Regions from separate parts of the Homo sapiens genome. Here all the other regions are linked to region 3. The links come from fine-mapping of genetic effects on gene expression. A gene starts in region 3. Each other region holds a variant in brackets. All regions are shown on one strand. Distances are from middle to middle.

Region 1 (8,458 bases), 40 kb after region 3:
GTGTCTGACACTGATTTAATCTCTCCAGCAAGTTGTTGGGCTGTAAGCAGAAGATTATTGATCTACTCCCTAAGGTGGAAGTGGCCCTCAGTAATATCAAAGAAGCTGACAATACTGTCATGTTCATGCAGGGAAAAAGGCAGAAAGAAATATGGCATCTCCTTAAAATTGCCTGTGTAAGTAATTATTAATGAATTATTTAATGTGACATTGAGTTGCTATTATTCCTTGCAAAGGGGATTTTTATCAGCATGAGGTGGGCCCTCTTGAAGACATGTATATTTTGCATTGGGATGACATCCATGTTCCTTGCTTGGTGTCCAGACTAGCAATTGAGATGCAGGACTTATTATCATCTCTCCTTTCCAATTTCTCTGTTGTTATACTCCTCTTAGCCCTTGACTACTGTGGTATTCCAACCTAACTTGGGGATAGATGTACCTGCCTAGATAATGAAATTGACCATCTATTCAACTGGGTTTTTTTTTTCTTTCTTCAACTAAAATGGTATAAGATGAGTGGATATATTTGGTTTTAGTCAATGAAGAAAGGGTCCAAGGACAGGTTACTAATGGTGTGTAAAGGTGGGAATAGTTTTGTACTGAAATACTCTGGTTGTGCATATAAGTAGTAACGGAAATGTAAGTCTTAGGAATATGATAAGAAATTGTGTGAATCAACAGAGATGCTTGCCTGTAATCTTTTGATGTTTTTTTCTTTTCCTTCAGACACAGAGTTCTGCCCGGTCCCTTGTAGGATCCAGTCTAGAAGGTGCAGTAACCCCTCAGACATCAGCATGGCTGCCCCCGACTTCAGCAGAACATGATCATTCTCTGTCATGTGTGGTAACTCCTCAAGATGGGTGGGTTTACTTTGTAACAATAGATAGCTGTGTTTTCATAGCAGTGGTATAGGAATGAGGCAGTAGTTGTTAAGGTAGTCTTCTGTGCCTTCAGACCAGGGTTGAGTCCTGACTATCCCTTTGTAATAATCTTAGGCAACTTACTTGACTTTTTTGATGTTCATATTTCCTCACCTGTAAAACAGGAATGTCTCATAGAACTGCTGTGGAAATTTGATTAGACAATGTATATAAAGTGCTTGGGAAATAAATGTTCAGCAAATGTTGCGTATTATTAGCTCAAATGTTGCTTATTATTAGCTAAGTCCAAGTTCTAAGTCCTTTCTTTTATTGGCTTATTACTTTCTTTTACTCAAACCTTACTCCTTCATTAACAGTTTATGAGAAATTATGCTATCATTTTGCATTTATCATTTTGGGGATCCTTGATTACCCTTCTAATAAATTTTTGAGATCTATTTTATAACTTTGTATTTCTAAGATTAGACTTTTTTCAGTGTTTTAAATCAGTTTTGCAAGAACTCAGATTCCAAGCCCTATATTTTATTAATTCCTACTCTTTTGCTAAAAGCTGAATGACTATCCATTTCTGTTATTTTCTCAGCTTAAGATGTGCCGTATCCAAAGCCAGTGGCTCTTTGCTAGCTTGTGTATTGTCGCTTTTCTCACAACTCATGGAGACCTCTACAGCACCAGCATTTCCTGGAAGCTCTGCCCATAATTAGTTTTGCAGAAGTGCAGCCATGTTACATCACTGCTCAGGAGGTCATGCAGTTGCACATTCTGTACTCTACTTTTATGAGAGAAAAGCACATGGCAGGAAGGCAAGCTGATATCAGGTATTTTATTTTTTTAAAGAAAGCAAGTTCCAGGGTATATATCTTGGGGTCATTATACATGTGGCCCAATGCAGTACACCTACAACTGTAGCACAGGCTATAATTAAATATATAGACTTTACAAAATACTCCAGTAATCAGAGTTGAAGGAAGTAAAATTTAATACTTTACTTACTTTTTTGCCTTTATTAAAGGCATTTAAGTTTTTTAGCGGATGTTAATGTTTACAAATGTCACCACAATACAGGTAATTTCCAATTTGAAGTGTAGTTGCTTGCAAAAGTATATCTGACAGACATTTTCAATGTATTTTCTAGAAGGAACACATTATATTTTGTTTTGAGACGGAGTCTCATTCTGTCGCCCAGGCTGGAGTGCAGTGGCACAGTCTTGGCTCATTGCAACCTCCGCCTCCCAGATTCAAGCAGTTCTCCTGCTTCAGCTTCCCGAGTAGCTGGGATTTCAGGTGCGTGCCACCATACCTGGCTAATTTTTGTATTTTAGTAAAGACGGAGTTTCACCATGTTGGCCAGGCTGGTCTCGAACTCCTGACCTCAAGTAATCCACCTGCCTCGGCCTCCAAAAGTGCTGGAATTACAGGCATGAGCCACCATGTCCAGCCAGAATACATTGTATAAGAAAATTGATTTCAATTATAATGTACCTGTGGTACTTAACTACCAAGGATTGGGAACTGTTTGACCATAATTTTTCCATCTGTTGGATAAGAGCTGAATCAGAATGTCATTCTAAGCTAATAGTGGCTATCATCCATGACCTAAAACGGACTCTTGTTAGGGGACTGAAGATTGGCAAAGGGAGAAGCTAGAGGCCATATAGAAGAGGAAAGCATGAAGGTAGAAACCACAATCAGGACTGCCTTCAAATATGAACTTCCAGGGATACTTCTTGGTTCTGGGTAGCTCCCCCACCACACTGTTTTCTTTTGCTGTCCTCAGGAATCAGCTTGCTTGTTTCGTTTCATTGCTATCATCTGTAGTTTCTAATGAGTTTTTCACTTTCTGTGATCTCTACAGAACAGATTTTACTTTTCTCTCTTCTCCCCTACATTTGTGTCTGTGAAGTATGCATGCTGGTGTTTTTACTACTTTTAAGGAAAGAGAAGTATTTAGAAACAAAAACGTATTTCATCTGTCTTTGCCACAAGGATTTTTTCCTCCCTAGTTACATTTTCACGGGAAAAACAAGTTGTACATAAGTGCATCTTACATTTCAGAGGAAAGTCAGACTGGAGTTATAGTGGACTTCTTATCATTAGTTAGGTAGAGGTAGAGGCAGCAGCCTGGTCTTAACAGGACTCTGCCTCTGTAGGGAGGGATGAGGAAACTAAAGACTACAGGAGTCAACTGCACTGGGGTACTGGGTTACAGGAAGGCTAGTGATCTTGCTAACCTAGAAGACTAGAAAGTAGAGGAAATTCATATGCCCTTTTCCTGAGTTTGAAAAGGCTTTGTTCTTTCATCTCACAGGGAGACTTCAGCACAAATGATAGAAGAAAATTTGAACTGCCTTGGCCATTTAAGCACTATTATTCATGAGGCAAATGAGGAACAGGGCAATAGTATGATGGTAAGTTTTGTGTGGATATGGGTGCCTGCTTTGGCTATGTTGGGTGCAAAAGGTTTAACTTTCCATGCTAGCCTTATCTGGCATTTGGGATGCATATGGGAAATAGAAGAACTCAAGAGGAAAGAGCATTTGGGGAATATCCTCAACCTTAAATCCTTATCTGCCGTTACTCAGGGATATACTAGGATTATGTCATCAATTATCTTCAATAATAGCATTTTTGGTCAAATTAAATGAGTGGTAAGCTTCTTCACAATGTGACCATTGAAATTGAATGGTTTGTTCTGTACCTTTTTGCTTCAGCAATCAATTTTCTCCATTAAGATGGGACTTGTACTTTAATTCAGATATGGTACCTCCCGAATAGAAAATAAATTATGTTAATATAGTTGTAATAATAAGTGTGTGTTAAGATTTGGTTACTATAAACTACTGATTTGTTAAAACTTGAGGAAATTACCATAAAATGTCTACTGAATCAATTTTTCCTGCATTTAGTCTTAATGTCAATTCTGTACATTTCCTCTTTCATTAAGAAAAATAGCAGTGGCCAGGCATGGTGGCTCACGCCTGTAATCCTAGCACTTTGGGAGGCCAAGGCAGGTGGATTGCTTGAGCCCAGGAGTTTGAGACTAGCCTGGCCAACATGGGAAACCCTGTCTTTATAAAAAATATAAAAATTGGCCAGGTGTGGTGGCACACACCTGTGGTCCCAGCTACTTGGGAGGCTGAGGCAGGAAGATCGCTTGAGTTCAAGAGTTTCAGGCTGCAGTGAGCCGTAATCCTGCCATTGCACTCCAGCCTGTGACAGAGTGAGACTTTGTCTCGGGGAAAAAAAAAAAAAAAAAGGATAATGGTGGCCAGCCATATGACATGTACCTGTAGTCCGAGTTACTAGGGAGGCTGAGGCAGAAGGATTGCATGAGCCCAGGAGTTCAAGGCTGCAGTGCATTATGATTGGACTTGTGAATAGCCACTGTACTCCAGCTTGGCAACATAGCAAGATCCTGCTCTCTTAAGAAAAAAAAAAAAAAGAAAAGAAAAGGAAAGAATAATTGTTTACTTCAAATATTTATGAAAAAAACTCTGAAATTTTTTTAAATCAGGAAATAAGGTAAATGAAATGATTTTTCAACTTTTGATTATGAAATGTCCAAACAGAAAACTTGCAAAAATGAACACCCATATACTTATAACTTATAGTCAACATCTAATTGTAACTTTTTCATGCCTGGTTTTAGAATCTTGATTGGAGTTGGTTAACAGAATGAGTTGTCACTTGTTCACTGTCCCCAAACCTATGGAAGTTGTTGCTATACATGTTGGAAATGTGTTTTTCCCCCATGAAACCATTCTTCAGACATCAGTCAATGGAAGAAATGGCTATGAACAGAAACTACATTTCTACTATGATCAGAAGAACATGATTTTACAAGTATAACAGTTTTGAGTAATTCAAGCCTCTAAACAGACAGGAATTTAGAAAAAGTCAATGTACTTGTTTGAATATTTGTTTTAATACCACAGCTATTTAGAAGCATCATCACGACACATTTGCCTTCAGTCTTGGTAAAACATTACTTATTTAACTGATTAAAAATACCTTCTATGTATTAGTGTCAACTTTTAACTTTTGGGCGTAAGACCAAATGTAGTTTTGTATACAGAGAAGAAAACCTCAAGTAATAGGCATTTTAAGTAAAAGTCTACCTGTGTTTTTTTCTAAAAAGGCTGCTCACAAGTTCTATTTCTTGAAGAATAAATTCTACCTCCTTGTGTTGCACTGAACAGGTTCTCTTCCTGGCATCATAAGGAGTTGGTGTAATCATTTTAAATTCCACTGAAAATTTAACAGTATCCCCTTCTCATCGAAGGGATTGTGTATCTGTGCTTCTAATATTAGTTGGCTTTCATAAATCATGTTGTTGTGTGTATATG[TATTTA/A]AGATGTACATTTAATAATATCAAAGAGAAGATGCCTGTTAATTTATAATGTATTTGAAAATTACATGTTTTTTCATTTGTAAAAATGAGTCATTTGTTTAAACAATCTTTCATGTCTTGTCATACAAATTTATAAAGGTCTGCACTCCTTTATCTGTAATTGTAATTCCAAAATCCAAAAAGCTCTGAAAACAAGGTTTCCATAAGCTTGGTGACAAAATTCATTTGCTTGCAATCTAATCTGAACTGACCTTGAATCTTTTTATCCCATTTAGTGTGAATATTCCTTTATTTTGCTGCTTGATGATGAGAGGGAGGGCTGCTGCCACAGACTGTGGTGAGGGCTGGTTAATGTAGTATGGTATATGCACAAAACTACTTTTCTAAAATCTAAAATTTCATAATTCTGAAACAACTTGCCCCAAGGGTTTCAGAGAAAGGACTGTGGACCTCTATCATCTGCTAAGTAATTTAGAAGATATTATTTGTCTTAAAAAATGTGAAATGCTTTTATATTCTAATAGTTTTTCACTTTGTGTATTAAATGGTTTTTAAATTACTTTCTTGATCTCTATTCATTATAAAAATCAGATTATAATAAAACAGTTGAATATGGCTTAGGAAAATATGAAGGTTCCATGAAGTGGAATTAAGAGCATAGAATAACTGTACTTTCCTTAGGAATAATAGGACTTATGGTAAAGGTAGTATTGGGCAACTTCTTTAAGAGTGTTTTCCTCTGAGATGTCCTATCACCACTATCTACATCTAAAAAACATGCTCGATTCTTGCCCTATAAACTGATGTCACAGCCCCACCATCCCCATTTTTGCTAGTGGTATCATTTTCCTAGTCAACCAAATTTTTTAGTCATCACATATCACTGTTCGTCATCTATTATAATAGGCAGTCTCTCTCTTGTTTCCCTGGTTTTAGAAGATTTTAGTAATAAACATTTATTGGGTACCTGTTACTTGGAGGGTATTAAGCTAGATGGCAAGATCTGAAACAACATAGGCAGTATAGTAAAAGTGCTTATCTGGGAGTCTGAACATTACAAGCCATCCAAGCATTGCAATTATTGTTAAGGATTATTTTCAATGGTCATGCATTTTCTAATATTTTAATAATTGGTTAAAGATTTGTTATAGCGTGGGGGCCGCTGCTGGTGTGTGGCTGGGGTTATGTCAGGGCAGCCTGATCTATATAATTTGGGCAGATGGTGTGAGTCAGAACAGACTATTATAGTGGGATCCCCAAACTTGCTTTTGATGCATGAGTTGGACCACTATTTTTTGGTGGGTAACAACTTTTCAGAGGGGAATGGCAGTTGTGAATTGTATACATTTCATTCTTTAAGCAATATTATGAAAAACTTCAGAGAATGTCTACAGAAAACAGGGTATGGAGCAAGTTATTTTCCATTCTTTTTGCTTTTTGGAAGTTAAAATAGCTAAGCTCTGCAAATATCATTTATTTGGAACAGATAAGGTCCCAGACATTCCTAGATAATAAAAATCAAATGAATGATACAGGTAAGTGTATTTATTGAAGGGTGTGGGTAGAGTGGTCTGGGAAGTCTTGCTTTAATGAAGACGGATTGATTCTATTTACCTCTTCTTACTTCCACTACTAAGTAACCCTGGGCCTGCAGTTTCCTAACCACTTGACTTCCTTGCCAACAGTCTGTCTCCACTTTCAGCCGTTTTATAGATTCATTGGCCCTAAAGCACTGCTTTCCCATACTTCCCTACCCAAGAGGGCAGGGGTCCCCAAGCCCTGGGCCGCGGACCGGAACCAGACAGTGGCCTGTTAGGAACCAAGCCGGATAGCAGGAGGTGAGCGGCGGGCGAGTGAGCATTATCGCCTTGAGCTCTGCCTGCTGTCAGATTAGCGAGTGGCATCAGATTCTCATAGGCACGCGAACCCTATTGTGAACTGCACATGTGAGGTTTGCCGGCTCCCTGTGAGAATCTAATGCCTGATGATCTGAAGTGGAACAGTTTCATCCCCAACCCACACACACCCCCACCCCGTCCGCTGGGTTAGAGGACTTTACAACCCTAGTCCACCTTGTCCAGTTATAGTTCCACCTCTAGCCTTTCAAGGCTTAAACCATTAATGTCCTTAATTTCTCTTGTATTCATCTATCTCCCAACTATACCTTTTTCCTTCCCTTTTTTATTTTTGGCAATATGTGCCCATGGTTTTTTAATTTAAAACGAACAGAATATGTAGTGACGCCTACCATAGCACTCCTTCCCATCACACAAGCCTTCAAGGAAACTGAAGTACTTACTTTGGTCTCCCTGGAGGATTCCCTCCGCCTCCCGCCCCATGTGCTTAGCAATTCTGTTCCTGTAGTCTGGATGGCCTTCATAAAGCCCTCACTGGACCAGCATTCTGGCACATAATAGGAACACTTAAAAAACGAGAGAATGATGCCGTTATATCTAATATCTTCCTCTTCTGAACTTTCACAGCACTTTATTTGCAACAAGTTTAGTTGCTCCTGAAGGGCAGGATCTCTGCCGGAAGCAAGTGCGTGCCACACAGTGGGGCTCCGCATACACTGCAAAAGGACAAATAAACCGAACAGCTACCGTTTGAGAGTGAGCGAGTGGGTTCTCTGCACAAGAACAAACCAACCAGTCCCTTGTCCGAAAGGGCGTCTCCTTTTCTCTGCTTCGCTGCTCACTCCAGACTGCGGGCTGTCCTCTTCCGAAGCAGTTAACCAGCAGTGTACAGAAAGCGACTTGCCTCCAAAGGAGCCTGCGCGGCCCGCGGCTAGGAGAATTTTGTCCCATGCGCTCCCCGTCTCACTAGCCGCGGGCCGGGGCTACGCCGTGTGCGTCCCCGCGCAGCCGCAGTGCTGGGCGAGTGGGCGGGGCCGGCTGTTGGCGGCGGTTGGCTCGGCGCGGGAGTCGGCTGCACGTGCGGGCGGGGGCGATGCGTCACTGATCGGTGAGGCGCGGCCGAGGGGTCGGCTTTCCTCGCGAGCCTGCGGCTGGGCTTCTTCTCAGTTAGTGCCTTCCACCCGGGAGCGACCCTTGGGAGAGGGAGTTTCAGGAAGCTCACCGAGCAGGGGCGGCCCACTGGCCTCCGGGGGCGGAGGAGTTGGCAAGGGGTCAGCGGGCTCAGCCAGAAGGGAAGAATGAGGGGACAGGGGTACTGGACTCCCCGGCTCAGCCTGCGAGAGAGCGCCAAGTTTCCGGAGGGAGAGG
Region 2 (8,458 bases), 210 kb after region 3:
CAACTGCATCTCTTGAACGTAAGGGGGTGTGTGTGCATGCTCAGTTTCCTGATTTATGATCTCAATGTGCTAGAAGTCTAACTCAGCATAGGTCCAAGACAGTGTAGCATCCAAACCACACTGAGTCTATTAATAAGTGAGCCAGTAAGATTCACTTTCTCCGTGGCCACAGAAAACACCCCTAAACCCAACCAGCCATCTCGAAAGCAAGGATATAGAAAGTAGGACAGCATGACTTGGTACAAATCTGCCATCAGAACTGGAGAAGTTAGACTTCCTGTGTCTAGAGCATCATCTTTACACATGTGGTACCACAATTTGTCTCATACACACACTCTCAGCACACACCCTGCAATCCACCATGCCCACCTCCTGCCTGGAATGCAGCTTCATTTCTACTTTAACACTAACTGTATTCTGGGTTTAACCATGAGTAAACATTCCCCCTGAGCAAATGCTTAAGCAAACATCACTTCTCTCCCTCCTCCCAGAAGTTAAATATCACTATTTATAAAGGCTTCCCCCTACCCCTACTGTCTCTTATTCTTTCCCTCACCACTTCATGATCCTCCCCACACTGCTACTCGTTAATCTTTCTTTCTCCCACCTTCATTCTGTTCACATACTTCCTGCACCCCTTCGCCCCCACCCCACCAGGCCCTGCTGCAGGTGGGTGTAGCATCACCTAAGAAGCACTGCCTGGAGCCATGAAGGGATAAGAGGCCAGCAGCCCGGGGAAAAGCCAAACAGAAAAAGCACTGCTTGTTTCTGCTGTTACTCTGCCTGCCTCCCCCTGCAGTCTCAGGGAGGAGGCAAAGAAAGTCACCGCTTGGATCCATGTTCACCCTGCAGGAGGAGGGAGAAAAGGCATCTTTGACTTCCTTTTAGATTGTCCCATATGAGCCCTTTGGGATGAAGTCCATCCCGGGCACTAGATCAAAGGAATTGAGTGAGTTTCCTCAAATCCTTTCTGGAATCAGATGAAGAATAAATAAATGAAGAAATAAAGTGACCACAATTTTGTTCTTTTTAAAAATATCCAAATATAGTATTTGAAACACACGGTAGTTTATAGAAGGCTTTTATTTTACAAGCCAATAATTTTTTTTAATGTCAGACATTGGTACATTACCAATGTTGTAGCAAGGTTTGAGGGAGGTACATCTCACGCATGAGCATGAAAACTCAATCATCATGCTTATGACCTACAAAATGACCTAATTTTTTTTTAATGGAAGGATAAAGGGCCCACCAACTTTCTTTTTTTTTTTTTTTTCGATAGGGTATTGTTCTGTTGCCCAGGCTGGAGTGCAGTGGCACAATCACAGCTGCCTGCAACCTTGACCTCCTGGGCTCAAGTGATCCTCCTTTCTCAGCCTCCTGAGTAACTGAGACTACAGGCATGTACCACTATGCCTGGCTAATTTTTAAATTTTTTGTAGAGATGGGGGTTTCACCATCTTGCCCAGGCTGGTCTTGAACTCCTGAGCTCATGTGATCCTCCTCCTTCAGCCTCCCGAAGTATTGGGGCTACAGGCATGAGCCACCATGCCTGGCTACTTTCTATTTTGGACTAACTTTCTAATTTTCTATTAAGGACTATTGGTAAAATACAATTGTTATCCACTATCACCATCAATTCGTAAATACTCTAACACCAAAAATTAGGAAAGGTATAATCTCAGAATAAAGAAGTCTTGTAAATGAAATTTTTCTCATCTTACTAGGAAATAGTAAATCTTCCATCTTAGACTGGCATATTGAGCCAGTAGTTTAGAGATGAGACCTTTATTGGCATATAACTAAAAATCCAGACATAGCTGGATTGAGGTGCCTAAGTTAGGTGGTATGGAATCTCTCTCCATTTCTTGATTTCATTGTCTTCAGTAGTGACTTCATTCTCACATAGTCTCTCTCCATGAGGCAAGGTGAACAACAGCTCCTTTTAGCTTATCTTCTCTCAGCTATCAAAAGACAAAATTACAACAAATTTAGATTAAAGATCGAATTGGCTTTTATTTGCAATTCTAGAATTGGGCAACAACTCATTCTATAAGATAGAATGAGTGTTCAGATGAGTTGAGCAGAGAAATTTGACTTTATAGGCAGAAGAGGGCTGAAGAACGCAGGAACAGAACAAAAACTGATTGGTTGTTACAAAGTTACTTTCCTTATAAAGGTTAAAGCAGAGGGGGCCACCTCATCATGCTTCCCAAAACAGGCCTGTTTGGGGATTTGGCTATTATCTATTTCTTGCCTGATTTCTTGGAAGATCAAATAAATAGCTTAGTTTTGGCTTGGTGGAAACTTCAGTATGAGTAACTCCATTTTGGTTTTATCTGTTAAGCCTAGTGCAAGAGCTCAGTTCCACCCAATGGCCTCCTATAAATTTCATTTAACACAGTTTAGCAACAAACTATTGATTCTTGAGCATGAATCTCAATAGCACAAACTGGATTACGTGCCTATCTCTAAAACTATCACAGTGACTCTGATTGGTCAGTCTGGGGTCATATGATCACTTCTGGGTGCTGGAATGGAAATATGGGGGACTGCGAGTATAGATGAGTTGTTTCCCATTAAAACAAACAAACAAAAAATCCCTGGGAGATCAAGACAGGCAGATCACTTGAGGCCAGGAATTCGAGACCAGCTTGGCCAACATAAAACCCCGTCTCTACTAAAAATAGAAAAGTTAGCCGGGCATGGTGGCACATGCCTGCAATCCCAGCTACTTGGGAGGCTGAGGCAGGAGAATTGCTTGACCGTGGGAGGCAGAGGTTGCAGTGAGTGGAGATCATGCCACTGCACTCCAGCCTGGGCAACAGAGCGAGACTCCATCTCAAAAAGAAAAAAAACAGGAATGATGGTTGTGGACAAAACAACAAAAGAGCATTATAATTTTGTTGAATTTAAGCATCATTTTGATTTTACTGTGACTTTTTTCTGTTTTATTTATCTTTCATTGACATATAATTGTACATATTTATGGGGTACAATATATGTATACATTGTATAATTAGCAAATCAGAGTAATTAGCAAATCCATCATCTCAAATATTTATTACTTCTTTGTGGTGAAAACATTCAGAATGCTCTCTTTTAGTTAATTTGTTTTTATTGATTCTTATTTTTTATTTTTAAATGGAATTTCGCTCTTGTTGCCCAGGTTGGAGTGCAATGGCATGATCTTAGCTCACTGCAACCTCCGCCTCCTGGGTTCAAGCAATTCTCCTGCCTCAGCCTCCCAAGCAGCTGGGATTACAGGCATGCGCCACCACACCCGGCTAATTTTTTTGTATTTAGTAGAGACAGGTTTTCACCATGTTGGTCAGGCTGGTCTAGATCTCCCGATCTCAGGTGATCCACCCACCTCGGCCTTCCAAAGTGCTGGGATTACAGGCGTGCCCCACCATGCCTGGCCCTTATTTTATTTTATTTTTTCTGGAGATGGAATCTTACTCTGTTGCCCAGGCTGGAGTGCAGTGGCACGATCTCGGTTCACTGCAACCTCCGCCTCCCAGGTTCAAGCTATTCTCCTGCCTCAGCCTCCTGAGTAGCTGGGATTACAGGTGTGCAACACCATGCCCAAGTATATTTTGTATTTTTAGTAGAGACGGGGTTTCACCATGTTGGTCAGGCTGGTCTCAAACTCCTGACCTCAGGTGATCCCCCTACTTCGGCAAAGAAAGTCACCCCTTGGATCCATGTTCACCCCGCAGGAGCGGGGAGAAAAGGCATCTTTGACTTCCTTTTAGATTGTCCCATGTGAGCCCTTTGGGATGAAGTCCATCCCGGCACTAGATCAAAGGAATTGAGTGAGTTTCCTTAAATCCTTTCTGGAATCAGAGGAAGAATAAATAAATGAAGAAATAAAGTGACCACAATTTTGTTCTTTTTAAAAATACTCAAATATAGTATTTGAAACACACTGTAGTTTATAGAAGGCTTTTATTTTACAAGCCAATGATTTTTTTTTAATGTCAGACATTGGTACATTACTAATGTTGTAGCAAGGTTTGAGGGAGATACATCTCACACATCAGCCTTCCAAGTAGCTGGGATTACAGCCACACACCACCATGCCCGGCTAAGTTTTGTATTTTTAGTAGAGACAGGGTTTCAGCATGTTGGCCAGGCTGGTCTTGAACTCTTGGCCTCAAGCGATCCACCCCACCTCAGCCTCCCAGAGTGCTGGGATTACAGGTGTGAGACATTGCGTCCAGCCATGGTTTTTACTTCTGAGTGTGAAATAATTCTCTGTTTTCCCGTAAACCAATTCAAGCTTCTGCAAGTAGATAGGAAGAGGAGTCCCTAGGCATCAATATATCAATATATTAAGAACAGCCCTGAAGATAAACATGATACAGTCTTTTCTTCAGAATACAGAAGCTTTCTTATAGGGTCTGTTCTCTTCTAGGAAGAACAAAACAAGACCTGGTCTTACTCTTGCCAACCAGGGTCTATCCCTAAATGAAACCAAATGGCCTCTGTTGTCTTCTAGGAGTTGGCCTTGTCCTAGTTCAAGTCC[A/G]CCAGACAGATGCCCTCTGTGAAAACTATCCTGACTTGGCCGGGTGTGGTGGCTCCGCCTGTAATCCCAGCACTTTGGGAGGCCGAGGCAAGTGGATCACCTGAGGTGAGGTCAGGAGTTCGAGAACAGCCTGGCCAACGAGGTGAATCCCCATCTCTACTAAAAATAGAAAAATTAAACGGTTGTGGTGGTGGGCGCCTGTAATCCCAGATACTTGGGAGGCTTAGGCAGGAGAATTGCTTGAACTCGGGAGGCGGAGGTTGCAGTGAGCCGAGATCCCGCCATTGCACTCCAGCCTGGGCAACAAGAGTGAAACTCCGTCTCAAAAAAAAAAAGAAAAGAAAACCATGCTGACTTCTCCTTTGCCTGTGAGATCTGATCACCAATCTTCCTCTGTCGATCTCTTTTCAACTTGAATTCTCACCGTTCTGAACCTTGGCCATGAGACTGCCAGGTGCATTGTGTCAACATTTTGATGAATAGTTGTTAGTATTTTCATGTGATGTCTGACATTTTAGGATGCAAACCTATGTCTTCCATGTTCTATCACTAGGTTGTTGGATCACATTTTCTTTTATAATAGAAATAAGCATATATTAACAGTATTTTATCTATACATCCCCTCCTCCCCACCACCCTGGAATTTGGTCCCCTGGCTATTCCAGGATGGACGGTTAGCTGACATAGCATGAGCAAGGCCAGCTTTGATTAGTTTCAGCAGCTCACTACTCTCATCTGCTTGCCATTGCAAACAACAGCTTATGGCTGTGACATGGTGCATTGTGGGGGGAAGCCAGAGGGAGTTGCCTTTGATATGGGGCCAAGTCATGCCAAACTGTTAGTTCATGGTGCAGCCCCTCATAACCGTGATAGTACTTACGGTATATCAAAGGATGACACACCCAAATAGTTTTAATCAATTAGATGAATCAAAATATGAATTGAGCCATTCTGTGTTTTGGTTTATTGAGGATTATTCAAGGGGAAAAACAATGTACTTTTTAGTTTTAATATGACATATACAGATATAATCCTTATTGTTAACAAGGCAGTTCCACACACATTTATCTCGTTTGGTTATTTTCATTTCAGTCCCTTCATTTGGGGATATTTTAATCACGTCTCAATACATCAACTTATCACAAAAATCAATCTCTTTACCATGGCTCACCAAACCAGAAATGACCTACATACTGTTTGTTAGATAGTTATTATTTGGCCGTGTGCGGTGGCTCATGCTTGTAATCCCAGCACTTTGGGAGGCCGAGGAGGGTGGATCACCTGAGGTCAGGAGTTCAAGACCAGTCTGACCAACATGATGCAACCCCATCTCTACTAAAAATACAAAAATTAACCGGTTGTGGTGGCGCATGCCTGTAGTCCCAGCTACTTGGGAGGCTGAGGCAGGAAAATCAGTTGAACCTGGGAGGCAGAGGTTGCAGTGAACCAAGATTGCACGCACTACTGCACTCCGGCCTGGGCGACAGAGCGAGACTGCATCTCAAAAAAAAAAAAAGAAAAAAAAAGATAGTTATTATTATTATTATTAAGAGACAGGGTCTTGCTATGTTGCCCAGGCTGGAGTGCAGTGGCTATTCACAGGCACAATCATAATGTGCTGCAATCTTGAACTTCTGGGCTCAAGTGAGCCTCTCACCTCACCCTCCAAAGTAGCTGGGATTACAGATGCGTGACACTGCACCTGGCCCTGTTTGTTTTCTAATCTGATCTCATAAAACTGCCTCCTTTGTTCACATGGCTTATTTTGTGTTTCCGAAACGTACTAGATGGCTTTCTACTTCAAGATTTTGCACCTGCAGTTTCTCCTGCCTGAAGAGCTCTTTACATGGCTGATTCTTTCTCTCTTTTTTTGAGATGGGGTTTCACTCTGTCACACAGGCTGGAGTGCAGTGGTGCCATCATGGCTCACTGCAGATCGTGGGACTACAGGCTTGAGCCACCATGTCCGGCTTGATTCTTTCTCATTATTCAAGTTTCAGGTAAATGTTACATCCCCAGAGGGGATTTCCCCAACTATCTCTATATTCAGAGAAGGTTCCCATCCCTCACTTTGGCCTTTATCAGCCTAGATTCCTTATCTAAACCACATGACATAGAAGCTGTGTGGAGTGAATTGTCCTCTTAGTTCTTTCAAGGACTGAGTATGACTTGAACTGTTCTGGTTGCTGTTGGGGTCAGGTGAACTTCCTCTTCGCCCTCTGAAGTTTTGCTGAAAAATCAGGTCACAAAAGGCAGATTAATTGGCATATGCATCTGTTTGACAATAGTTTTATGTGACACGGAAGACCAACCCCCCAATGGGGTGCAGAAGCTTATGTACCATCTTGAGGCTACAGAAAAAATGGTGACTTGGATGCTGGCAAAACAGGTTATGGGAGGGTGAAGAAGAGGAATTCTATTGAGGGCAATAAATGATTACTAGGGAGAATTCAATGAACTTGAGGAACTTCCAATGGTCTGGGACAAAGTCTGTTGGGCCTGCAGACCAGACAGTGGTTTGTGACAAAAGTCTGTCCAGGTTTATTGACAGACTTTGGTCTTCTTTCTTGCAATGTGGGTTCAGTTAATTAAAACTCAGGAAAGAGATCAGAGATAATTGTTTTTCTTTGGTAGGTCAGGACTTTGGACAGATAAGGAAACTTCAGAGAATACTATGCTTTGGGAGAGACAGTGAAGAGGGGCAGGTGGGAGGAGGTTGAGAGAGACCTTGAGACTGCTTTTTCAGCTCAACATGTACAAAGCACCCTATTTTAGGGTATTGGTTTCTAAGCCCCAACATTGCATAGGAGAGAAGTTAACTCATTACATACAACAAATGCCTAGGGCACTAGGCTTTAATTCTCTGTGATCTAATCTATCGCATCAGTTGGTTTGTTTCCTTCATAACACTCAACTACACCCCATGATTGTCTGGATTATCATTTGTTTATTTCTTTATTGTCTGTTACCCTACTCTAGAATGTGAGCTCCATGAAGGCAAGGATCTTGTCTGTGTTGGTCAGCCTGAATGCCAAACACCTAGCACAATGCCTGTTACATCACAAATGTACAGTAAGAATTCATTGATAAATGAAAAGTATAAAACCACCTTTGCAAAATTTTAACTGAGGAACTTATGAAGTGAAAGAAAGCAGACCTAACTGACCCCATCTTGCTTCTAACCTTTAAGTTGTCCTCGTTCATTCCTGGGCATAGGCTGAACTAACTTTGGGAAAGAATTCAGTTCATGACTCTGAAACAAAATTGATAATAGCCCTTTGCCAAAAAGACCCCCTTCTTGCCTAGGGACCAGTCTGCCTTTGCAGGACTAACAAATTAGCTACAAGATTAGAAATTACAGTTTAAGGCCGGGAGTGGTGGCTCACACCTGTAATCCCAGAACTTTGGGAGACTGAGGTGGATGGATCACTTGAGGCCAGGAGTTTGAGACCAGCCTGGCCAACAATGTGAAACCTCATCTCTACTAAAAATACAAAAATTAGCTGGACGTGGTGGTGCATGCTTGTAATTTCAGCTACTAGGGAGGCTGAGGCACGAGAATCGCTTCAACTCGGGAGGTGGAGGTTGCAGTGAGCTGAGATTGCACCCCTGCACTCCAGCCTGGGCGGTAGACTAAGACTCCGTCTCAAAAAAAAAAAAAAAAAAAAAAATTACAGTTTAGGGGTCATGCAGCCTCTGACTCCAAGAGCCTGAACCTCCCAAATTGCTCCTGGAATAACATCACTATTTCAAAACCTAAGATCAGTATTTGAGATATTTTGCAGACCCTGCAGTTGATGGATCTGCTGACACCATCCAGACCGGTAATCTGGCTCAACCAGTTCTGCATTGCACCCAGGAGCAGAAAACAGCAAGAAAACCTCATTTTGACCCCCTATGTTTCCATCTCCAACCTGACCAATCAGC
Region 3 (8,458 bases):
CTAATATATCAAAATAAGTAAAAATAAAAATATAAAGCAATGGCGATTAGAAGGCAGCTTGTGTGTGAGTGTGTCTGTATGTAGTTATTCTTTAGTCCTAAGAGCCAAGATAGTTGTTTTGTTGACATTGGGCTTGTGCTGCTGTTACGTGGGCCTGAGTCCCCTAGAAGGAGAGGCAGAGGAATTTTAAATCAGAGTGGGTATGACTAGGCTCCTGACTCTGCAAACTCATGTCTAGTTGAGGTGACAAAACTACAGTTTAAGGCAGGTTGTAATCACAGCTAATATGGCACTTTGACTGTGTTATCTCTGTACCTCACAAAAACCCTGTATGGTGGGTGTTCTTATTTGCATTTCATAGGTGAGGAAATCAAGACTCAGAGATGAAATCATCTGTCTAGATCATAGATAGCAAGTGGCAAAGCTGGAAATGGGATCCAGTCTCTGATCTTTCTCACACCAGGGCCTGCCCTTTTTCTATGTGGTGTTGCTTCTCTAAGTACCAATAATATAGTTCCAAGTTTTTTAAGAGAGGGAGAAGCAAGTGGGGTTTGAAGGATCAGGAAATATATAGTACCTGAGCTGGTCATTTAAAACGGGTATGATTTTGATCAATAGTATGGCAGAGATGGCACTCAGGGCAGGAGAGCAAAGTCAGAGAAATTTGCATACCTCCTTTGGGTGATGTTGAGGAGAGCTCAGGCTGATAGTTTCCATTTTGACTTCTTTGTGCTATTTCTGCAGGGAGGTCCTGGCCAGTGAAGCCATCCTTAATGTTCCTGATAAGTCTGACTGGAGGCAGTGTCAGATCAGCAAGGAAGACGAGGAGACCCTGGCTCGCCGCTTCCGGAAAGACTTTGAGCCCTATGACTTTACTCTGGATGACTAAAACAAAGGGAAGAACTTTTTATGAACTCCACAGGAAGTAGTAAAGCTTTTTTTTTTTTTTAATTAAAAGAATTTTTTTTGAGACAAAGTCTCGCTCTGTCACCCAAGCAGGATTGCAGTGGCATAACTGTGGCTCACTGTAGCCTCAACCTCCTGGGCTCTAGAGTTCCTCCCACCTCAGCCTCATGAGTAGCTGGGACCACAGGCGCATGCTACCATGCCTGGCAAACTTTTTTGATTTTTTATAGAGACAGGAGGGTCTCCCTGTGTTGCCCAGGCTGGTCTGTAATGCCTAGGCTCAAGGGATCCTCTGCCTTGGCTTCTTAACCTGCTGGGATTACAAGCATGAGACACCATTCCTGGCCTAGAAGCCTATTTTTAAAGAAACTACAATCTCCCATGGGGACTGTTTCCCTGCCTCTTTTGTGCAGTCCCATGGAACTTGCCTACAGCAAGAGGCCTAAGATTGAATCTTTTTGGGGAAAAGTCATTCTAGGATGAAAATCCTATGTTAAGGCCGGGCGCAGTGGCTCACGCCTGTAATCCCAGTACTTTGGGAAGCCGAGGCAGGTGGATCACCTGAGGTGAGGAGTTTGAGACCAGCCTGGCCAACATGGTGAAACCCCGTCTTTACTAAAGCTACAAAAATTAGCTGGGCGTGGTGCCAGGCACTTGTAATCCCAGCTACTCAGGAGGCTGAGGCAGGAGAATTGCTTGAGCCTGGGAGGTGGAGGTTGCAGTGAGCCAAGATCGCTCCATTGCACTCCAGCCTGGGTGACAGTGAAACTCCATCTCAAAAATAAAAGAATAAAAGTATGTCTGTCATCCAGCTCCTATGTCTGTTATCCAGCTCCAAGTACAGCTTGTGTATATCAACATTTTCAAAAACCTTTAAACTACCAAATGAAATCCAGATGTTTTTCCATGGTTGAGAAGTGTCTTGTGTTCATGTTGCCTGTGACCGTTGAAATGAAGTAGTATGTGTAATAGCAGGGGCTAGAGCTTTAGGCCCAGCTGTTACTCCAAAATCACACAGGGCAGTTTCTCCCTGAACAACCCAAAGTGGAAAAGGGATCCAAGGCTTTTGCTATTTTTCTCTTAAGCATTCATCTTATTCATAGATAAGAGCCCATTTAGTCCTTCGGATATTTAACTCCTATGTGCCAGGCATTTTTCTAAGCTCCAGGACCATAGTCATGTCCCAATATGGTCCCTGTTGTCCCAGAGATTACAGTTTAATGGGGAATAGAAGGGACAGATTTAAGAAAAAAAAGATAATTCTCCTTTGGATATTGTTTTAGGTGCTTGATATATCTAATATGTGTCTGTTGTGCTGCTGGGCAGTTCTAAACTCATCAGTACCTGGGTTGGTTACAGGGCTTTGGGGATCATCAGGGTATAGGCCATAGGTGAAATTAAGATAGGGTAAATACAGTCCTGAGCTGAAGATGATTACCTGAGAAATATCAGTATTTAAGGAGTGCTTGAAAATAGTGATCTAACATTTACATAGAGAAGGAGCAAAGAGAATGCTACATATTAGGCGCAAAAAGAAAAATATTTTTACCTTTATATTGGGCACTTATGGTCCAGACACTGTTTCATTTAATCTTCACAAAATCTCTGTGAGGTAGGTATTACCTCTATTTTACTCATGAAAAAAAAACTGAGACTCGGAAAATTGAAGATTGTGGAGCCTGGGGTCAACAGGCTTAGGCTTTTTAAAAAACAGGCCAGGTGGCTCATGCCTGTGATTGCAGCACTTTGGGAGGCTGAGGCAGGCAGATGACCTGAGATCAGGAGTTTGAGACCAGCCTAGCCAACACGGTGAAACCCCGTCTCTACTAAAAATGCAAAAAATTAGCTGGGCGTGGTTGCATGCGCCTGTAATGCCAGCTACTCGGGAGGCTGAGGCAGTAGAATTGCTTGAACCCTGGAGGTGGAGGTTGCAGTGAGCTGAGATCACACCATTGCACTCCAGCCTGGGTGACAAGAGTGAAACTCCATCTCAAACAATAACAACAACAACAACAAAAAACAACTCAAATTACTCATGGCCCTGGGAATGGGGGCATTTAAAAAGTTAACCAAGGGAACCAACCTGGTTTCCACAAAGATGGCCACTTCTGGGTCAGCCCAATCATCAGTATCCCTGGGTCCTCAGCATCCCTTCCTACCTCTTTTGACTGGGAATTACGAGATTACAGCCCCACCTACGGAAATTGAGCACATTAGCACTGGCCATGCTGTACATACAGCAAATGAGAGGGCTTCATACTGTTACAACAATCTGTACCACAATTCTCTGTGCGGTCTGCCCAGCTCTAAATGACATGTCCTCAGAGGCATCATCATCTCCAAGTCCATGGAAACCATGCACTTACAGAAACCAGAACCTCCCATACCACATGTTACTAATGACCTACAACATCGACTTCGTCTGTATCATGCAGTGCTCAACATTCTGGTTGCAGCATCACATTTATCAATAATTTGATTCCATGCTGATTCCTTTACTTGGAGTATTGAGATCCCCCAGGTACAGTGAAGGTATGACCCTCTTAAATGGAAGACCAGGAGTTGTTTCCCCTATGCTATGGCAATCCGCCACCCGGAAGCACTTGCTGCACCAACAGCATTCCCAAAGCTTGCCTCTGCAGCCCTGTAGCACCCATTAGAAACACTTCTCACAATGAACTACTGTGCTGGCAAACCCATAACTGGACTGCCGGACAGCAAGCTCTGTGAGGCATCTAGGAAAAAAGCTCGCGAAATCCCGAGAAACACTCTTCACTCCGGAATAGCGTCACATTCTTGAGTCATTTGGGATGACAGGGGATATCCTGGAGCAGGTGTATTGGGAAGTCAGTGAACAAGAAGGCTAATTCATTAGTGGGCCTGCTAGCGTAGTATTTTAACGATTTCGCAGCCTTTAAATCATTGGTGGTCTTTAGCGTGCCGGATCAGCTGGTGGTGGAGTTGGAGGATAGATGGCAGGGATCTGAAGAAAGGTGAAGTGTAGATAGGAGTAGAGACAATATGAAGTTTAGAAAAGACTAATTGCTGGACGCGGTGGCTCATGTCTATAATCCCAGCACTCTGGGATGCCAAGGTGGGAGGACTACTTGAGACCAGGAGTTCGGGACCAGCCTGGGCAACGTAGCAAGACCATGTCTCTACAAAAAATAAAAAATTAGCCAAGCGAGGTGGTGCGCGCCTGCAATCCCAGCTACTCGGGAGGTGAGAAGATCGCTTAATTCCGGGAGGTCGAGGCTGCAGTGAGCCGTGATCGTGCCATTGCACTCCAGCCTGGGCAACGGAGCGAGACCCCATCTTAATTAAAAAGAAAAAAATACAGGAGAGACTGGGCTGCTTTGAAAAGTGGATTTGACGGGAATGTGGGGTTTGGAGAGATCTTATGTTTTCCAAGACTAGAAAAACATTGTGGTTCCGTTCAGCCCTCCCGGAAAATACGTAGGGGACTTAAAGAGCGGACCGAGTACCTGTTTGTTTCCCCATCCCTTAGCCGGCAGGGCTCTGGCAGCGCCCTGGGAGAACTTAGGGAAGGGCCTTCTCGCAGCGGTTACCGGAAGTGACGCATTCATTCTCGCGAGAACAAAGACGCGCGAGCATCGGCGGCCCGGAACCGGCCTTGGAACAACTGTGGAACCTGAGGCCGCTTGCCCTCCCGCCCCATGGAGCGGCCCCCGGGGCTGCGGCCGGGCGCGGGCGGGCCCTGGGAGATGCGGGAGCGGCTGGGCACCGGCGGCTTCGGGAACGTCTGTCTGTACCAGCATCGGGTGAGGCGGGGCGTGAGAGGGAGCGGCGGTGGGTTGGAGCGGCGGTGGGTTTGAGCGTCTGTGGAACACAGGGCTGACAGTGTGGGATAGATGGTTGGTGGGACCTTGGGCAGTATTTGGGGGCCAGTGGGCTTGTGTGTGTGTATTAGAGAGAAAGATACTATGCCTGTGTGTCCAAAGTTGTATTTGAGGTACTGGGCATAGATAGAGCTGTTGCGGGGAACTTGGGTATGACTGTCAGGCTGTGACCAGGTGTTTAGTGAGTGTGACAGTGCGTGTGTGTCTCTGTGAATGTGGAGTGTCAGGGTGTGTGAGGCAGATGCACGTCACAGTGTGTATGTAGGAGCACGAATGTGTGAGAAGAGGGCTGAAGGGGACTGCCTTTGGGAATGTGTGCGTCCGTGTGTGTGTGTGTGTGTGTGTGTGTGTGTGTGCGCGCGCGCGCGCGCGCTTGGAGGCCATATGATATCAGTGGGGACTGGAGTAGACAAGGAAGGCTTCATGATGGGTCCAGAGTTAAGCCTTTGGAAGCATGGATGGGCTTTGGAATTGGGGATGTATTCCAGGTCGGGACAGTATGAGGGTGAGTTGGTGCAGAGCATGGCTTCAAACGAAAGGCTATATTAGTAGATGGAGATGGGGGGCGCTCTAGTAGGTGGAGGACAGTTAACATCAGACTCAAGAATTTTACTTTGATTTAATAGAGAATGTTTAACCATTGTAGTAGCAGTTAAAAAATCATATTTGGGTCTTGTTTGTTTGTTTTTGTTTTTGAGACGGAGTCTCACTCTGTCGCCCAGGCTGGAATGCAGGGCGCGATCTCGGCTCACTGCAGCCTCCTCCTCCCGAGTTCAAGCGATTCTCCTGCCACAGCCTCCTGAGTAGCTGGGATTACAGGCGCCCGCCACCGTGCCTGGCTAATTTTTTTGTATTTTTAGTAGAGACGGGGTTTCACCATGTTGGCCAGGCTGGTCTCGAACTCCTGACCTCAGGCGATCCACCTGTCTCAGGCTCCCAAAGTGCAGAGATTATAGGCGTGAGCCACGGCACCAGGCCTGGGACATGTATTTTTTGATATACCGATAAAAGCTGTGAACCCTTTCCCCAGAAAAATGCACAGATGCACATTCACACAACCATGCATTGCCATTTGAGAGGTTCGTGCCTTCCTAAAGGACATTTTAGGTAAATAGACCCTGGACTAATAATTCCTGTAATATAGGCTTTGTTTTGTTGCCTGTAAAGTAAGTATAGTATAATAATTACATGCATCATGGATTTGAGAGTTAAATAAAATAGTAATGTGTGTAAAGCTAAATACGGTACCTGACCCATGAAAGCCCTCAACTGTTAGCACCTGCTGCTACTTTGTTGTTGTTGCTGCTATGATCATAATGCTCCTCATTAATTGGCCTTAAGGAAATGTCAAGATAAAAAGTGTTGTTCTAGGAAAATGGTTTTGTAAAGGATAAATTTGAGTGGAACAACATATGGGACAAGATGAACAGGTAAGATCTTACTAAAATGCCTGGGCTTGGCTTGTGAATAGAGAAGTTAATTCAAGAGGAAAAGTAATAATTTGTTATCTAAAGGAACATGGGTGTAGTGAGAAAGCTCGTAATTTGGGGTGGGAGAAAGGGGAGATAGGAGTCTACCTTGGGAAAATAGGCATATTTAGGGTAATTAGAATGACAACTGAAACTGTTAGAACTGAGGAAGTTTTGTGAACCAGGTTTCTAGATAGGGCATAGGAGAAAATCTTGGAGAAAGAGAATGGAAGGTGAAGGACTAAGGCATTAAGTCCTGTGATAGCAGGATAAGTAGTAAATTTAATAATTCTCACCATCAGAGGGAACATAACACACTAAAAAAAAAAAAAAGTGGGAGCCAAGTGCTTCCAGTGGCATGTTGCCTGTGTTACCTAAGCCTGCCTATCCGCCTGGTCATAAGGAAAAAGGATGCATGCTGGCAGCTTTTGTGACTTCTTTTCTTGGTCCCTGGGTGGGGATGGATGAATTAATCACTTTTTGTTTTATTATGGTAAAGTATACATAACACAACATTTATCACTTTATTTTTAAGTGTACAGTTAGGTGGCATTAAGTACATTGACGTTGTTGTACAGCCATAACCCTATCTCCAGAATATTCCGACTTTTTTGTTGTTGTTGTACATCTATAAACTTCCCATAGAATATTCTTTGTGAAAAGGTAGAATTTCACAGAGTTGATGAAATATAAATTAAGGAGTTGAAGGATCTTACAAAGTGGGATTTTTGAAATAGATAACTTATTGCTCCATTAACATGAGCATTCAGGGCTCAGTGTTGTTCATGGTTGTGCCTGATTCTCATTTCCATGGTGGTAAAGGCCTGCATGGGACATAGATATAACTGGTCACCTGCTCATAACAAAAGGAAGATTGAAGGGAGTGAGAACTGTGGGTAGGCTAGCATGCAGTCTATCCTAGTTTCCTTCTTCTCTATGCACCAGGTATCATCTTATCTCTAGCTTCTTTTTTCCTCTCACCCTCCAATTCACACTACCCTATCCAAGCTATGTCTTGCTTCCCCACCTATAATATATTTTTTCTGTCCTGGCCCCTGGGCTCTTCTCTCTGTATTCATACACAGCCTTTATTACAACTCTGGTTTGTGTCAGAGATTACATATGTTGGAAATTCTTTTGAACTCTCCTTGTGATATCAGAAACATAGTGTAGCCTGTTTAGCCCTGACTGCTATTTCTGAGCTGCATTATTAATGTTGCCAGAATATGATGGGGTCTGGCTATTTCCTGTAATATGCATCAGAATGGGTTTAATTTCAGTCAGAATTGGCTAAATTACTAGTCACAGGCAAGAGATGTTAGGTTCATTATGTAGCTATGGAAGCAGAAGTACACTCATTGGTAGGATTTTTTTTCTTCATGTCATTTGAAATGCATACATTAGGATTGGAGTTTTTTGCTTTAGGCTTGGTTATATTAAAACTTTCTCTTGCTGTTTGGAGTCCAGGAAGCCCTGAATTACCTTCTTCATTTTAGTTATGCTAGAAGCTGGGGCACATATTAGTTGTCTTGATTAAGCTCTGAAAGGGGTTTGCTGAGGAGACAGGATCTTTTTTTTTCTAACATTATATATGAGAGAGAGTTCTGAAAAGACCTGTTATAAAATCAGTTTCAGGCACTTTTCCCTTGTATGCTGTTGTGTGTTTGAAGGTCAGTTTTAAAGCATTGGTGTAATAGTCTCATGGTTTATCTTTTTAAAAAGCATTGCCTCAAGAGAGCTGTGGATAAATATATTTAATTAGTAAAGCTAAAAAGTTTTGTTGTCTTAAGTTATTTCTTTGGTAGCAAATAAATCTTCACAAGAACCTAATTTTTTTTTTCTGTTGATTTTCTATTTTGGCAGGAACTTGATCTCAAAATAGCAATTAAGTCTTGTCGCCTAGAGCTAAGTACCAAAAACAGAGAACGATGGTGCCATGAAATCCAGATTATGAAGAAGTAAGTGTATTCCTTGACTTACATTTCCCTGGTTCTACAGCCCAACCAGATGTCATCATGGGGAAAGAGGCCAGGAATCCACTCTTCTCAGGATCTTTTTGGGAACATATATTTTTTTCTCTCATTAAATATATTCTATTTCAAATAATAATATCACATTAAGATTAAGAAGGTTTAGTTAAAATCAGCTAGGACACTTACACACTGTTGGTGGGAATGTAAAATTGTGCAACTGTTACGGAAAACAGTACGGTGATTCCTAAAA

The links.
Region 1: its variant is fine-mapped to the expression of CHUK in whole blood (TOPMed, PIP above 0.99). The same link has a PIP of 0.9 or more in lung.
Region 2: its variant is fine-mapped to the expression of CHUK in whole blood (TOPMed, PIP above 0.99).

The regions. Positions count from the first base shown.
Region 1 is chr10:100,185,702-100,194,159 of GRCh38, reverse strand. ERLIN1 (ER lipid raft associated 1) reads left to right here and starts at 8,131. Exons shown (of 11, transcript NM_006459.4): 1 at 8,131-8,458. CHUK (component of inhibitor of nuclear factor kappa B kinase complex) reads left to right here. Exons shown (of 21, transcript NM_001278.5): 18 at 29-176; 19 at 729-862; 20 at 3,192-3,291; 21 at 4,533-5,860. The coding sequence ends at 4,562. RefSeq lists an enhancer at 7,764-7,913 and a silencer at 8,084-8,233. The variant TATTTA/A (reference allele first, on the strand shown) is at 5,230.
Region 2 is chr10:100,012,353-100,020,810 of GRCh38, reverse strand. LOC124902583 (small nucleolar RNA U13) reads right to left here and starts at 1,217; the gene lies at 1,112-1,217. RefSeq lists a silencer at 1-143 and enhancers at 6,184-6,733, 6,744-6,863. The variant A/G (reference allele first, on the strand shown) is at 4,532.
Region 3 is chr10:100,225,658-100,234,115 of GRCh38, reverse strand. It overlaps CHUK (component of inhibitor of nuclear factor kappa B kinase complex), which reads left to right and starts at 4,520. Exons shown (of 21, transcript NM_001278.5): 1 at 4,520-4,688; 2 at 8,099-8,193. The coding sequence starts at 4,584. CWF19L1 (CWF19 like cell cycle control factor 1) reads left to right here. Exons shown (of 14, transcript NM_018294.6): 14 at 745-1,818. The coding sequence ends at 889. It overlaps CHUK-DT (CHUK divergent transcript), which reads right to left and starts at 4,456. Exons shown (of 4, transcript NR_186419.1): 1 at 4,392-4,456; 2 at 2,990-3,101; 3 at 673-885; 4 at 1-163. RefSeq lists silencers at 3,211-3,473, 4,543-4,782 and an enhancer at 4,383-4,432.